3 linked regions of the Homo sapiens genome follow. The protein of the gene in region 3 interacts with the protein of the main gene of each other region in a pairwise test. Each region holds a gene or a part of one and is shown on either strand. Other genes may lie near its edges.

Evidence for each region.
Region 1: the proteins of LRSAM1 (region 3) and RXRG interact in a two-hybrid assay, tested with the Homo sapiens proteins (one large-scale study listed by IntAct).
Region 2: the proteins of LRSAM1 (region 3) and FAM178B interact in a two-hybrid assay, tested with the Homo sapiens proteins (one large-scale study listed by BioGRID and IntAct).

What each region holds. Positions count from the first base shown.
Region 1 is NC_000001.11:165,414,027-165,417,749, forward strand, and holds part of RXRG (retinoic acid receptor RXR-gamma), read right to left. Parts: intron 3,195-3,723; coding exon 3,015-3,194; intron 1-3,014. UniProt on the Homo sapiens protein: Receptor for retinoic acid. Retinoic acid receptors bind as heterodimers to their target response elements in response to their ligands, all-trans or 9-cis retinoic acid, and regulate gene expression in various biological processes.
Region 2 is NC_000002.12:96,969,468-96,973,190, forward strand, and holds part of FAM178B (protein FAM178B), read right to left. Parts: intron 3,140-3,723; coding exon 3,071-3,139; intron 2,856-3,070; coding exon 2,434-2,855; intron 1,311-2,433; coding exon 1,249-1,310; intron 1-1,248.
Region 3 is NC_000009.12:127,500,010-127,503,509, reverse strand, and holds the end of LRSAM1 (E3 ubiquitin-protein ligase LRSAM1), read right to left. Parts: intron 2,501-3,500; coding exon 2,367-2,500; intron 737-2,366; coding exon 611-736; 3' UTR 11-610; downstream 1-10.

The sequences.
Region 1 (3,723 bases), on a different chromosome or scaffold from region 3:
CAAACTGAGCCCCAAATTCTATAAATCAAGACCAGAAATGATGGCGGTGGACAGGCTATCCAGTAGCCTTTTGAAATGCGCCCCCTTATATAGTCAGCGGAGGAATTGATTCACTTCTTTGCCTTCCCTTTGTCAGGGTAAATGGTGCCAATCTCTTCAGAAAGTTCCCTAAGAGCTCCTTTCCCTCTCCTAATTTTTACTACTCAGCTTTTCACTATTCTTTCTGTTTCTCCACATTCTTTTAAAAAATGCAGGAGCAAAAATTGGGTCCAACTTTCTATTAAAGTACCCAAACCATAGAAGTGTCTCTTACAGTTCACATGTCCCTGTTTTCCTTCCTTTTTTAAAAACATTTAACGAACCACAGTTCCCAACATTTGGCCTATTGACCACTCTGTCCCTAACTGAGCTGGGGATATTCAGCCTGCATTTTCAGAGATGGATTAGAATAACTCTAGAGAAATAGAAATGATGGTTTCTCTGACTGAGACCATTCACTTTCCTTTAATTCAATATCATGTGCTTAATGAAAACTGTTACTGTTCCAAGTCAATTGGAAACTTATCTCAAGTGTTTTAGGAGGGAAAAAAATGACCCTGCAGTCACTGGACTCTTGTTAATGGGAGAAATACTTGTAGTCATTAGTTTCATTTTGATAATCATGGTGGGGGAAGCTCCAAGGAGTATCCAATTCTATCCTGGTGGAAAAAAGATGTTCTTCACCAGCAGGTATTTCATATCGCATGCTCCAATCTGTAACATCATTGATCCCACTGCCACAGCAAGTATGACGTAAGCACAGAGTAGGCACTCAGCTAATACTCAATGAATAAATGAATGAGTCATTTTTAGGAGCTCCTGCACTTCTAAAACTTCTGATTTCAGCATTCAGTTTAAACTATTCATTCAACAATTTATTAAATGGCTACAATGTATTAGTCACTGGTGATAAAGCAGTGGGGGAAAAAAGCAGATGAAGCCCCCGCCTTCATGGATACAGACAGTAAACAAGATAAGTACAAGTGTTAGATCATGATAACTACTGTGTAAAAGAGACAAGGAAGGGTTGGGGGTGGCTGGTGCAATTTTAGATGATATAACCAGGCAAGGCTTTACCAAGAAAGTGAGAATTGGGTAAAGATACGAAGGATGAGAAAAAGTGAGCCATCAGATACCTGAAAAAAAAATCATTCTAGACAGACAGCAAGTGCAAAGGCCCTGAGGTGGGTGCATCTCTGGTATAGTTGAGGATCACCAAAGAGGCCAGGAAGGCTGAGGCTGAGAGACAACAGGGCATCCAGACTATGTACAACCTTAAGTCATGACAAAGATTTTTGCCTTTTTTTCTGGGTGAGAAGGAAAGACATTGGAGGATTCTGCTGAAGGAACACCTTGACCCAATCTACTTGTTCAAAGCCTCCCTCTGGCTACTGTGCTAAGAAGAGACTGTAGGAGGACAAAGATGGAAGCAGGGAGATGTCTTAGGATGCTGTGTAGATCACTACAAAATATACAGTTAGCTTAGATTGGGGGGTTAGTGGTAAAAGTAGTGAGACATGGAAAGATTCTGGGCATAGTTTGAGGAAGAGACAAGACTTCCTCACCCGCTACATGTGGTGTGTGAAAAAAGAGGGGAGTCAATGGTTTTTGTTCTGAGCAACTGGAAAATAAGTGGCCATTTCCTGAAAGGGGAAGACTGTGTGAGGAACAGGCTGGGGTGTGGGGCAGATTTTCAGGAGCTGAGATTTGGGTCTCTCACTTTTGAGGTTGCTGTTAAATGTCACAGCGAGGGCCATCTTCAGTTCCTTCACAACCTGGCAGGGAAGGAGACACAGACTAGGGCTGATCTGAAAGTCAGAGACCTGGGGTCAGTTCATTAACTGCCTTTGGCACCTCAGGAAACTCCGTTCATCTCTGTGAGCCTGTTTTCTCATCTGGCGGATGGTTACAGTTGATTAGGTGACTCTGTAAGGCCACCTCTAGCATCTTGACATGTTAAGATTACAAGAATTTGTTTGCTCATGGGTGACATTCACTTTTAGCAGGGACACAAAGAGCCCCTCTTCATTGACCCTTTCAGTAAGATGCCCTCTTCTCACAGAAAAGAAGTTCCTCAAGAATGAGGAGCGTGCTGGGCCTGACTGAACTCCTTGTTCTTATTTCCTAAAGAGAGGCAGGACCTTCTTACTCTAAAATCTATTAAGATTCACCACTATCCCCATGTCCCTGCTTGAGCTCACTAGTTAATTAACTGCCCACTTCAATTTATCTGTGATACTTAATGGAAAGTCTTTTCTGTCTACTAACGGGACAGAAAGCACCTTCTGAGGTTTTTTTCTCTCATACTAGAATACCCAGCTAAACCACACTATAAATTAAAAGATGTGATGGTTTCAACACACAGTGGTGGTCTCTCTGAATGGGAAGGTTAGGTCTGTCAAACCTGTGTAATGCCAGTAATGCCAAAAGATGATGGAATATACCAATATCAAAGATTTGATAGCAGACCCAGGTAAAAAAAACTCAGTGAGTGAAATGAAACCTACAGTTTGCCCCAGAGAGAGACCTAGGATTAGAGGAGAAAAGTCACCTCCACCCTGAAGGTCAGTCTGACGATCCATTGGTAGAGCAGATCATAAGGACCCTGAAACCTTGGCTCTGAGACTTGCTGCCTGGTTATTGGAAGAAAAAAGGAGACGGTCCAGTTTGGGGATCACCATCTGGGCTCCAGAAGAGGATGGGTAAATGTGGAGGAGGAAGATGCCTCTTGCCCTCTCTGCTCTGGAGAGACACACTTCCTAGGAAAAGGGTACATTCAATTGCAATACACGAGTACCCAAAGTCATCCTAATTTCCTATTCAGACTTCTCTTTAGAGCCCTGTGGGAAAGAAATTTGAAGTGGAGATTAGGATGACTTTGGGCACCATGACTTCTCGTGTATTGCAGTTGAATGTCCCCTTGCCTAGGAAATGCCTCTCTCCGGACACGAGTTTTGGAACTGAATGTGTCTCACCTTCCCTCTTCATGCCCATGACAAGGCACTTCTGATAGCGACAGTACTGGCAGCGGTTGCGCTGACGCTTGTCAATGAGGCAGTCTTTATTATCCCGACACGTGTAGATGAGGTCCTTCCTTATCGTCCTCTTGAAGAACCCTTTGCAGCCTTCACAACTGTATACCCCGTAGTGCTTTCCTGGTTAGAAGAAAAGAACATTCCATAGATTGTTCTTGTGTTTATTTGGATCTTTCATTCAAAAGAACCTCTTGGCTCTTCCCCCAGAGAAACAGGCATATCACTTGGGCATTGGGACAGAAAGCAAATAATCACTAGCAGAGAATGCAGGCTTGATCACAGGAACCAAACTAAGACACAGCAAATACACTTGTCCTCGTGTCTTTCCTCTGCATTACTAATTCCAGAGAGAATTATTAGAAAATTCCTAAAGCTAAGGCTTTCTTTATATTTATTTTATAAAGGCAACTCTTGGGTTTAGTTAAGCAAATGTTCTGCCTCCATTCAAAACATTAGTGTAAATAATAAATAAAAATATATATGCTTGTCACGTATTACCTAGCAGGAAAAGAACCCCAACTTAACTAATTATAATTGAGACCCAAGTTCTTAGGAAACCTATTTAAATTTATTATCCTTTACCATAAACTATGAACAGAATTCTGAGTTATGAATTGTTAAGTGCTATTGACTGTTGAGGAAATTAATT
Region 2 (3,723 bases), on a different chromosome or scaffold from region 3:
AGAACTGGGAGAAATAACTGTATTGTTTAAGCCCCCAGTGTGTGCCATCCTGTTACAGCAGCCCGAGCTGACTAGCACAGAGCAGGACCCTCCCAATGCCAGGCACACCGACAAGCAGTCACGAGGAGGCCCCAGCTGCTCATTTTCCTGCCAATATTTTCAAGCGTCTACTAAATGTACATCACCATGCTGGGCACCGTGGAAATATATAGGCATGGTCCCTTCCCTAACGTACAATCTAATGGGAGAAAATCACTCAGGTGAAGGAGCTGAACAACACAAGTTCCCGGGTCGGAGGAGCCCAGAGGGGCTGCACAGCAGAGGCAGATGAGATGACTCCAGGGCGGGCCAGAGGGCCAAGAATGGACCAAAGAATAATTCATCCCAGTGCATGAGGAGCTCTCTGCCAACAGGGCTGGGAACTTTGAGGAGGGTGGAAAGAGTGGGTATCAGTCCTCCCACCAGGAGAGCTGGGTGTTCCAGGGTGGCATCGCCCCCGCCCACACTTAACTTCTGCAAACACAATGGACATGCACTGAACAAAAACAACACAACACAACAACGGGAGAGGACAAAGACTCAGGAAGTGTGAACAACCTGCTCACATGCCACCAAAGAGCATGCCCCCATGAAGACGACCCCTGTCTGTCCCCAGCCACCTGCACCTCCCTAGGGATTTCCAATCTCATCAGACGTGACTGTTGCCTTCAGCGGTCCGTGGAAACTACTTATGGCAGACAGGGAGAGAGCTAGTTAGAAGCTAATATGCTGGGAGAAGGCAGGTGTGAAACTCAGAGAGGATGGGAAAATGGGCAACGCGTGCCTGCACACTGGGGTAGAAAGCAGCGGCAGAAATGTTAGGAAGTCCCGTCTGCCCAGCATGACCCTCCAGCCACAGCCAGGCTGTAACCCTCAGCCACAAAACAGTCTGCTTTTCCACTTCCCTCTCACATAACCCTTGAGTGGGAGGAGACACCCTCAAACTGGCAGGAGTTGGGCAGAATGGAGCCAAGGTGGAGAGGGGACCCAGAAGGAGGGCTCTGTTCGTGGTGGGAGTCTGGGGGCTCTCTGCCTTGGTGATGCCACCCCCTGCCCTGGCGACCTGCCTGTTACTGATCAGAGCACACAGGGCAGGCTGAGTCTGGGTGGGAGGCCGCTGTACTCCGACCAGACTCTGCAGTGAGTCCCGGGACTGCTGCCAACCCTGCAGAAATAAGCACCCCATGACAGGCCACGCCCTGTGCTCACCTCTTCTCCTGCAGTAAGTAGTCCAGGTTGTTGAAGTAGCTTCCTGAGCCCCCCCAGGAAAACTGGAGAAACAGGACATGGGAATGAGGACGACAGAGAAGTACAAAGATAGAGGAGAAAAAAGAAAAAAAACTAAATTAAGCCCTTTATTTATTTTGTTTGCTTTTCTGAAAAGATACTATGTTTACAGGATTAAAAAATCAAAAAGTATAAAGGCGCAGGGTAAAATGTCTCCCTGCCCCCATCCCCACCCCCAGCCACCTGTTCCCTCCCCACAGGTGCCCATGGGATAGGCATTCCTCATGTGCTTTCAGAGACACTTCACACAGAGACAGCAAACAACACCACATCACAGGCGCCAGCACACCACACCACACAGCTTATCCTGCACCAGGCTCTATCCTGCACCACACACTTTTCAATCTCAATGATCTGACATCATTCCCTATCAAAGCCAAAGAGCTTCTCTCCCCCTCCCTATCTGCTCCCTTTCCCACTGTGCCCCTCCCCATTGCCCTCTCCTCCTCTCCTCTCCCTCCCTCCCTCTCTCTCCTTCTCCCCCTCCTTCCCTCTCTCCCACCTCCCTCTCTCTCTCCTTCCCTCTGTCCCCCTCTCCCTTGTGTCTCTGTCTGTCTGTCTGTCTGTCTCTCTCTCGCAGGCTGTTACAAACAGCTGAAACCCATTCTTAGAATAACTGTTCTCGATCCACAGCCTGTAAATGTCCCACAGTCTACCTAGCAGCAGGAGCTTACTCCCAATTTGAAGTTCATCATTGAAGTTCCATTTAGGACTCCCGATCCACTGGACCAGAGTCAGCTTGAGTCTCTACAGACAACCAAGCCCAGACCTCAGCTCTGAGATCCCTCCTTGCTCCGGGGCCATAACCCTAACCTCAGCCATGAAAGCCTCAAGGGGCCCCATGAAGTGGCATCGAATTTGTTGCCACCCAAAGCCATTTGTCAGCAGGAGTTACTGGTGGAGACACAGGGCGAGGTGCATCCTGGCCTTGGGGGCCTGCGCTTCCAGCCATGAGGGCCCAAGGGCTGAGCAGGGATGGTCAAGGTGAAGTGTCCGAGGAAGAGCAGCTGGGGCGTGGCTCAGGAGAGGGTGGCCTGGGGTGACTGTAAAAGGGTGGCTAAAGATGGGTAGCCAAGGAGAAGAGGCCAAGGGTGGACACAGGCTCACCTCTGGGGCCGCAGCCTGCTGGCTCAGGCCTGACGTGTTCCAGAACAGCTTCTCTGGCAAGGCCAGGCCCCTCTTCGGGTCCAAGTCCAGGTGTTCCTGCTCCAACTCCTCGGGCAGCTCACCAGCCAGTCTCCTCAGGCCCTGGGGGCCCACCACACCCACCCACCTCTGGGCCGGGGCCTCCCGACTGGCCTGCAGCACCCTCGGGTTGAGGAATTCCACGGGCGGGGGGCTCCAGTCAGTGGGAAACGTTTCCCCAGGTGCCTGTATCTTGGGCTTCTTTGGCGATGTGGGAGCTGGAGCCGAGGCAGGGCTGCAGGGCCGCCGGGCAGGGCAGCGGGGCCCCTGGTCCAGGGGATGGTCTGACAAGCCATCCTCCAGGTTGTACAGGAGGATGGGCACGGTGGCGGCAGCCTGCACCCCTGCAGACAGGACAGAATACTGTGGTCCCTCTGCCCACCTGCCACTGTCCCAGACGTCAAGCCACACTGGGTAAGGAGAGCAGCAAATGGGTGAGAGAACAACTTGGGGTTGCTGTGGGAAGGATGCAAGGGAAATCCTTCAGCCATGGGCTCTCCACTTCCTCTCGCCCCCAAACCTCAGTGGGGATTTACCTGTGCAGGTGAGAGACGCCTACCTTCTCTCAGAGGAAGGGCTAGCACCGTCTCCTGGGGCCCAGCCATCTGCAAGCCGTGGGACATCTGTCCTGGAAGGAAGCGCCTGTGAGGGCAGGTGAACCTCCAGAAGAAAGCTAAAGGTTCTAAACCCCGTGATTCCCACAGAGGAGGGCCTGGGCCCACTGTGCCCAAGAGGGTCCGCCCTGAGGACTGGCCTTCTGATCCCACCAAGGTCAAGTTGCTGAGATGGAGAGAACAATCTGACTTCTCATTTCAAGGACATGATGGGCAAATGTGAGGATATCAATTTTCTTTTTTTAGACGGAGTCTCACTCTCTCGCCCAGGCTGGAGTGCAGCGGCGTGATCTTGGCTCACTGCAACCTCTGCCTCCTGGGTTCAAGCGATTCTCCTGCCTCAGCCTCCCAAGTAGCTGGGATTACAGACATGCGCCAAGGTGGACGGATCACCTGAGGTCAGGAGGTCAAGCCCAGCCTGGGCAACATGGTGAAACCCGTCTCTAGTAAAATAAAAATAAAAAAAATTAGCCGGGCGTGGCGGCGTGTGCCTTAGTCTCAGCTACTCGGGAGGCTGAGGCAGGAGAATTGCTTGAACCTGGGAGGTAGAGGTTGCAGTGACCCAAGATGGTGCCACTGCATGCCAGCCTGGCAACAG
Region 3 (3,500 bases):
AGGCCAGAAGCGCACTGAAGACAGGTTTATTGACACTCCTGCTTCGGATCGAGCTACATGGGGTAAGGAGGGACAGTTGTGGAGAGCAGGAGGGCCCCGGGGTTCTGGGGAGCAGCAGAGAGGGAGACCCAGGGTTGCTGGTGCCACTGTGAGCACAGGCCTGCACCACACGCCTTCCCAGGAAGGCCTCCCCTCACCCAGCCAGGCCCTCCTGCTCCCTTCCCACATGCAGGGTGGGACGGGCCTGTGCATGGCCCCCAGATGAGGACCCAAGCTCCTGCAGGGGCGGTGGCCTTCAGTCAAGACAGCTGGGAGGCAGCAGATCCGTGATTAGGCTGGGACGCTGGCTCCCAGGCTCGGGTGGTGGTGCAGCGGCCTCTCCAGCCCCAGCCCCCAGGACCATTCAGACTGGTGGTGTCATGGATGAGGAGCACCTCTGCCTGGCCCAGACATGCTTGGAGCTTAGGATGGGGGCTCCTGGGCAGTGGGGAAGGGGCCCAGGGCAGGGGGGAGCCTCATACGAGTCTGGCTGGCACAAGGCTGAGCAGGAGCCCGGGGCTCACAGTGGCCGAGGCAGGGCTAGGACCAGGCCCAGGTGGGCGGGCAGCACTCAGCTGCTGTGGTAGATGCGGAGGCGCTGGGCGATGTCCTGGCGGCACAGCGGGCAGGTGCGCAGTGGCTGGCAGCACTGCTGGCAGCAGCAGACGTGGCCACAGTTGAGGAAGATCATCTGGGCCTGGGGAGGGAGAGCGGGAGCATGTGGCTGGCCCTACCGGGTTCCAGGAGTCCCAGGCCCGTCTTTTTTTTTTTTTTTTTTTTTTTTGAGACAGAGTCTCACTCTGTTGCCCAGGCTGGAGTGCAGTGGTGGGATCTCAGCTCACTGCAACCTCAGCCTCCCGGGTTTAAGTGATTCTCCTGCCTCAGCCTCCCAAGTAGCTGGGACTACAGGCGTGCACCACCATACCTGGCTAAATTTTTTGTATTTTTAGTAGAGATGGGGTTTCACCATGTTGGTCAGGCTAGTCTCGAACTCCTGACCCCAAGTGATCTGCCCGCCTCGGCCTCCCAAAGTGCTGGGATTACAGGCGTGAGCCACCATGCCGGCCCCCTTCATTATTCTTTAGCATCTTTACCATAAACGCCTGATAGTGGGGCCTTCGGGCATTTGACCACCACAGAAACAGAACAGGCACGGCCGAAACAGGTAACCTAGGCCTTCTGTTAGCAGTTTGCTGTCTATTTCTCTATAGTTTGTAAAAAATATAAATACCCATATAAATGCCCCAACTGATTCTTTCTTAAATAAAACTGGGGATTATATTCCTGCGCTCTGGACAGGCGACGGAGGCCTATTCCGCCGGCCCCTGCCGGAGGGCACGCAGGGTGTTCAGGCTTCTTTCTTGTTGATGCACTTGCCCAGGCCCTGAACTCCTCAGTCTACAAACAATCCCAACCCGGAGCAGCAGCCACTGACTCAGGACCACACTTTGCCTCAGCATCTCCTGCTTTCAGGAACTGATCCAAGCTCCGCTCAAAGCTGTCTGGAATGCCAAGGGCCCCAGAACAGGGATTATATTTGGAACCAATAGGTCCATCCATATCATGGCATGAGTCAGGTCAACGGGAGACCCTGGAATCATCAAACTGCAAACATGGCTGCTTTTCTAAGTAGGATCCCTCAGTGGAGGCAAAGGAGGATTTGTATTTCATTCACTGCTCTGTGTAATTTTTAGAGTAAGTGTTAATGAATTTTTAAAAGATGATTTTTTCTTTTTTTTGAGATGGAATCTCGATCTGTCTGCCAGGCTGGAGTGCAGTGGTGGGATCTTGGCTCACTGCAATCTCTGCCTCCCGGGTTCAAGCGATTCTCCTGCCTCAGCCTCCCAAGTATCTGGGCTTACAGGCGCCCACCACCACGCCTGGCTGATTTTTGTATTTTTAGTAGAGATGGAGTTTTACCATGTTGGCCAGGCTGGCCTCAAACTCCTGACCTCAGGTGATCCACCTGCCTTGGCCTCCAAAAGTGCTGGGATTACAGGCGTGAGCCACCATGCCTGGCCAAAAGATGATTTTCTAAAGCCTCTGCAGGGTAAATCATGTTGTTGATATTTCATGATTTGGGAAATTTTTTCCTAATGTATTTATTAAGTAGGAACAAAAAGAAAAAGGTCCGGAAAATGATGTGAGCGCAGCTCATATTTGGGTCATGGGACCAGGGGTCATCTTTATTTCCTGCCTTCTTTCTAGATGAGCACAGTCTACTTAGAGAACTGGAGAAAACACGTTCAGAGACAACCCTGTACCTGCAGAATTTGAGGAGGGTGGCCACAGGCAGGGCAGGCGGGTGGGGAGGGCCCCGGACTTACCTCCCGTTCCAGGCACACGACACACTCTGAGGCCTGCACCTCCAGCTCTGCAGGGGGAGCGGATGGCCTCACAGACTCAGGAGGCTCCTGGGGGGCCGTAGGGGTGACGACCTCACCCATTGGTGGTTTCAGCTCTGTGGGGACCAGACAGACAGACTGAGCCAGGGTCATCTCCGCTGACCCTAACCCCTGGGGGCTCATTGTGGCCCTGCCCATCCCCATGGTGAGTGAGCTGGAGGGTGGGGGAGCCTCTGCTCTCAGATCTGAGGGAAGTGCTCTCCTTGCCACACACTCTCTTCTTCTCTTCTCTGAGCCTCATTTCCCATCTGCAGAATGGGAGTGAAGTCTCTCTCTGCAGGGATGGCCGCAGCGCTTGTTAAGTGGGTCCTCTGATCTCTAATGTCCCCGGGACGCTTCATAGCCACCCTGCAAGTAGGGCTTGGCACTTTCAGAGATGAGACATTTGAGGCTCAGAGACGGGGAGTCACTCAACCCAGGGCCATGTGGCCATCTGGTGATGCAGCTGCAGATCCCTGGGGCAGGAGCTCTCAGTGAAGGGCCAGCTCTTGGCTTCTCCACCTGGTTGCCCAGGAGACAGGATGGGCTGCTGCCCATCAGGTGACCCAGGGGAGCAGAATGAGAGGCCCCCCGCAAGGCTGTTCCCCTGCCCCCAGCCCCACAGAGTCCCCAGCATGCTGGCTGCTCTGCCCTGGAGTCAGCATCCCCTGCTAAGACATCAGAAGCAGCCCTTACAAAATGCTAAGTCTCTTTTTTTTTTTTTTTTTGAGACAGTCTCGCTCTGTCACCCAGGCTGGAGTTCAGTGGCGCGATCTCGGCTCACTGCAACCTCTGCCTCCCAGGTTCAAGCAATTCTCCTTCCTCAGCCTCCCGAGTAGCTGGGATTACAGGTGCCCACTATCACGACAGGCTAATTTTTGTATCTTTAGTAGAGGTGGGGTTTCACCATGTTGGCCAGGCTGGTCTCAAGCTTTTGACTTCAGGTGATCTGCCCACCTCAGCCTCCCAGAGCGCTGGGATTACAGGCGTGAGCCAACGTGCCCGGCTGCTAAGTCTCTTTTTCTATCATGCAACGTGAGCCACCCACTTCCTTGACTCTATCCCTCGTTCCCTTCC